2 separate regions of the Homo sapiens genome follow, and region 2 is linked to region 1. Evidence: fine-mapped expression QTL. Tissue or cell type: whole blood. Region 1 holds a variant in brackets; the other region holds the start of a gene. All regions are shown on one strand. Distances are from middle to middle.

What was found. PIP is the estimated chance that this variant, and not a neighbour inherited with it, causes the effect.
Region 2: it holds the start of PTAFR, and the variant in region 1 is fine-mapped to the expression of PTAFR in whole blood (TOPMed, PIP above 0.99).

What each region holds. Positions count from the first base shown.
Region 1 is chr1:28,113,975-28,116,656 of GRCh38, reverse strand. No RefSeq gene overlaps it. Among named protein-coding and RNA genes, the nearest start is that of EYA3, 27 kb to the right of the region's middle. The variant C/G (reference allele first, on the strand shown) is at 1,215.
Region 2 is chr1:28,175,179-28,177,860 of GRCh38, reverse strand. It overlaps PTAFR (platelet activating factor receptor), which reads left to right and starts at 1,171. Exons shown (of 2, transcript NM_000952.5): 1 at 1,171-1,269.

The DNA of each region.
Region 1 (2,682 bases):
CCCGCCTGTAATCCTAGCTACTCAAAGGGCCAACATGGGAGGATCACTTAAGGCCAGGAGTTTGAGACCAGCTTGGGCAACATAGCGAGACCCATATCTCTTAAAAAAAAGCAGACAGGGTGGCTAGATCTAAGGCAGCCTGAAGATGAGCCAGCAAGTTGAGGATAGCAGAGTGGCAAGAGCACAGAACTTGGGCCCTTGGGCCGGGCACAGTGGCTCACATCTGTAATCCCAGCAGTTTAGGAGGCTGAGGCAGGCAGATCACCTGAGATCAGGAGCTCAAAACCAGCCTGGCCAACATGGTGAAACCCCATCTCTACTAAAAATACAAAAATTAGCTGGCCATGGTGGTGTGGACCTGTAATCTCAGCTACTCGGGAGGCTGAGGCAGGAGAATCACTTGAACCTGGGAGATGGAGGTTGCAGTGAGACGAGATCAAGCCACTGCACTCCATCCTGGGTGACAGAGCGAGAGTCTGTCTCAAAAAAAAAAGAACTTGGGTCCTTGATGACACCAGCCAGCTGCTGAATTAATTAACTCTGGATCCCATCTAATTTAGGACTTCTTAAGTGAATATTTCCTTACTAAGTAATTTTGATTTTTTTTTAAAAATTAAATATGGAATGCTTTATGAATGTTTGTGTCATCCTTGCGCAGGTGGAGGTTGCAGTGAGCCAAGATCGAGCCACTGCACTCCAGTATGAGCAACAGAGTGAGACCCTGTCCCCTACTAAAAAAAAAAGCAGTTTTGAGATTTAATTCAGGTATCTTTTAAAGTGTACACTTCAGTGGCTTTTTTTGTTGTTGTTGTTTTGTTTTTTTGAGACAGGGTCTCACTCTGTTGACCAGGCTGGAGTGCAGTGGTGCAATCATGGCTCACTGAAGCCTCGACCTCCTGGGCTCCAGAGATTCTCCCGCTTCAGCCTCCTGAGTAGCCAGGACTACAGATGTGCACCACTATGCCCAGTTAATTTTTCTTTTTTTTTTTTCAGTAGAGATGAAGTCTCATTATGTTGCCCAGGCTTGTCTTGAACTCCTGGGCTCCAGTGAGCCTCCTGCCTCAGCCTACCAAAGTGCTAGGATTACAGGTGTGAGCCACCATACCCTTACTGATTTTTAGTGTATTCATTGACAAAGTTGTGCAACAATCACCACTAATTTCACCACCTCAAAAAGAAACCCCATACCCACTAGCAGTCACTTCCTGTTCCCC[C/G]CCACCACCGCATGCAACCATTAATCTTAACAAGGGATCTTCGGGGAAAGCGTCCAGTCTTTCACAAGGAAGTATGATGTTAGCTGGGGGTTTTTGTAGATATCCTTTATCTGGTTGAGAAAGTCCCCTTCTCTCCCTAGTTTGTTGAATGCTTTTAAACTGTTAGATTTTGTCGAATGTTTTTAGGCATCTATTGGAGGGGTGGGTTTTGTTCTTTATTCAATTAATATGGTGTATTACATTAATTGCTGTGTAAATATTAACATAATGGTTCAACACACTCCTTGAAATAATGATATTCATTTGTAAGCTCAGGTGAGCCACATTATAAGAGCATCTGATAGCTGACAATCCAGCTTACACAACTGTAGGCTTGTTTAATTAGGTTAACAGATTTTTTTTTTCTCTACCAAGTTTTTCTTTTCTCTTTTTTTTTTTTTCTGAGACAAAGTCTTGCTCTGTCGCCCAGGCTAGAGTGCAGTGGCACCATCTTGACTCACTGCAACGTCTGCCTCCCAGGTTCAAGCAATTCTCCTGCTTTGGCCTCCTAACTAGCTGGGATAACAGGCATGTGCCACCACACCCAGCTAATTTTTGTATTTTTATTTAGTAGAGATGGGGTTTCACCATGCTGGCCAGGCTGGTCTTGAACACCTGACCTCAGGTGATCCGCCTGCCTCGGCCTACCAAAGTGCCGGGATTACAACCGTGAGCCATTGTGCCTGACCACTACCAAGTTTTTCTGAAGAAGAAAATTCATTGTTAGTGAAGGGGTTCAGGACATGCCACCCCAAAATATGCCACTCTGGCATATTATTTTGAGCTGAAGCCACTTGAGAAACAGCCGGTGCAGGAAGAACCCTCTGAATTCCATCTTTTTACCTAAATACAGTTCATAAAATTTCCCATGAGAAAGATGCCCTCTCTGTACCAGGAAGAGAAGCACATTCCCATCACCGGAGACTGAGGGTTGATGGCGCAGTGGGCCTGTACAAATGAACCTACTAAAATAACCCCATGTATTTCCTAGTCATTGTCCCACAACTAACTGCCTTTAGCTCAAGCCTCTTTGTCTTGTCACATCCCCACAATTTGTCATTCTTTTTTTTTTTTTTTAGACAGAGTCTCTGTTGCCCAGGCTGGAGTGCAGTGGCACAGTCTTGGCTCACTGCAACCTCTGCCTCCCAGGTTCAAGCAATTTTCCTGCCTCAGCCTCCCGAGGAGCTGAGACTACAGGCACCCGCCACCAAGCCCAGCTAATTTTTGTATTTTTAGTAGAGACGGGATTTCCTCATGTTGGCCAGGCTGGTCTTGAACTCTTGACCTCAGGTGATCCACCAGCTTTGGCCTCCCAAAGTGCTGGGATTACAGGTGTGAGCCACCAAGCCTGGCCTGTCATTCTTTTGTTGTTGTTGTTCTCTTTATAGCCGGCTCAGACTCCAGTTCACATCACCCACCGATTTATTAT
Region 2 (2,682 bases), 61 kb before region 1:
ACCCTCACACCTACACTCAGAGATTCATGTGCATTCACCATCGATTGTCCACCCCTCTTCACCTGCATGCTCCCATGAACTCATACGCTGCCAACCCACACCAGCCTGGGTGAAAAAAAAAAAGAAGAAAGTATGTCCAAATTTGAATCTAATCAAACCTGTTTTCAGAAAATACAGGAGACAGAGGAATAGATTAAAGGACCTCACAAGGAAGCAATCAACCAAGTCCAGAATATAGAACATTCTACTGGACAATGGAGCCAGTTCTCTCCAGAAATCAACCGCATGAACAAAAAAACAAACACAGGGCCAGGCTCAGTGGCTCATGCCTGTAATCCCAACACTTTGGGAAGCTGAGGCGGAAGGATCCCTTGAGCCCAGGAGTTTGAGACCAACCTAGGCAAAACAGGGAGACCCTATCTCTACAAAACACGGTCTCAGGGAGCTTCCACCTCCACCCCCACAGATCTGTTCCCATGGGGTTTCTGGGCTCAATGTTTCTTGGTCTCCAGGGAGGCCCTGCCCTGTCATGCCCCTGACCACAGTGGCTCTTCCGAGCTCCTCTCTTCTCCCTCCACTTTATATCCCAGCGGGCATTCTCTTTCCTCCACTCCCCTTCTTTTATTTTCTCTCTCACCCCCATCCAGAGACGCACAGACCCAAATGTGCACAGGCACATGCTCGCTGTCTGTGTCTTGTCATCTCGTCTTTTGTCTTGGATCTTACCTTGTCTTTGTCCCTGAATCTCCTTGTTCCTCTCATCTCTCCCGGTGTTTACATCTGTCTTTTTCCCTGAGCCTCGCTCCCTCCATCCATTCCTCCGCCCTCTCATTTTTTTTCCCGACTCCCTCCTGCCTCCTCCCTTTCTCCTTTGATTTTCCTGGTCCCTCATCTCTCCTCCCTCCTCTTTCTCACTCTCATGCTCCCTTTTTCGCTCTCTTGAGTACATGCACTTGCTTTCTCTCTCTTGCTTTTCCTCTTTCTCACCTTAGCTCCTGGCCTCGGGCGCTGTCTACACCCCACCCCATCCCTCGCTCTTTGAGAAGCCTCTGTGCAGTGCCCAGGTCCTGGCGGCCCAGCTTGGAAGTTCCTGTGGTACCCCTTGAGAGGCCCTAGGGCCACAGCATTTCCTCCCAGGGGTGACTTGGTAGTGATACGCTCTGTTTCTTCACTTCTGCAATTGCCAGACAGCATAGAGGCTGAGGCTGGGGCCAGGACCCAGACAGAGACACACGGTCACTGCAGCTGAAGCCGCTGCCCCTGCTACAGGTAAGGGGGAATCCTGGCCCCTGCTGGGCAAGGGGGAGGCATATAAAAATGTCCTCAGGAGGCAAACCAAGGTCATGCCCCCAGGCTGCACCTAAGCAGATGGGTGCTTCTATTTCTTTTCTTTTCTTTTTTTTTTTTTTTTTTTTTGAGACAGGGTCTCTCACTCTGTTGTCCAGGCAGAAGTGCAGTGGCGCGATCATGGCTCGCTGCAGCCTGGACCTGCCAGGCTCAGGTGATCCTCCCACTTCAGCCTCCCGAGTATCTGGGACTAGAGGCATGCTCTACCACGCCTGGCTAATTTTTGTATTTTTTGTGGAGACGAGGTCTTGCCTTGTTGCCCAGACTGGTCTCTAACTCCTGGGCTCAAGCAATCAGCCTGCCTCGGCCTCCCAAAGTGCTGGGATTGCAGGCTTGAGTCACTGTGCTCGGCTGCTTCTGTTTTTAAGGGATTTTTCTGGCACCTTTCTCAGGCCCAGAGTCTCATGTTTAGAAATAACTTCTAGTGTCCAAACATTCCTGGAGAACCCAACACCCAAGTTTGGCTTTTCTGAGGCTGGGGCAGTGCTGACCCCAGAGATCCCACTGGGAGGTGTTGATGGTGGTGATGGTGGCAGTGCTGACCCCAGAGACCCTACTGGGAGGTGGTGATGGTGGTGATGGGGGCAGCTTGGATCTCAGGGAGCCAAATGACATCTACTTGACTAGCTGTGTGGTCTTGGCCAAGTTACGCTCCATCTCTGTGCAGTTTTCTAAATTGTCAAATAATGATAATCCCATCTCCCCCACAGAATTGTCGGGTCATATAAAGGATCTGGTACAGGGCGGGGTACTTAGGAACTCACTAAATGCTAGGTTTGCGGGGTGGGGAAGGGGGTGCTGAAAATAACCAGGTTCTTATACACAGGGCCAAGCCCACAAACAATAGCCCCTATCAGGTCCCAGGTGCTGGGGACAGGGCCCAGGCTGGCACCCACCGTCCTCTGCTTGCAGGAGGTCCAGACATGGGGCTGTGCACTCACTCACTTGTGAAATATGACAGAACCAGCAGGCTCTCTCCCCACACCTCTGGCTGCTCTCCTTTAGCTCTGACTGAATACCCAGCTGTGTTCCAGGTGTTTGGGGTGGTGTGTGTGTTGGGGGAGGCGGTAGGGGTGGGAGGTGTGTTGGGGAGTGCTAGAGAAGCAAAAGAGACACCACTATCTTTAGGTGCTGACAAACCGCCGGAGAAAGAGTTCAGCCCCTTAGATGACTGGGTCCTGGGCCTCAGGTGGGCATCCGGGGTTTCGATCTCAGCTCCTGCTGACAAGCCGGGGCCTTGAGTTGTTCGGAAGTTCCACTTTCCTCCTTTGCAGATTGCAGGTTAAAATACTGACCTCTGTGGGCCGGGCATGGTGGCTCACGTCTGTAATCCCA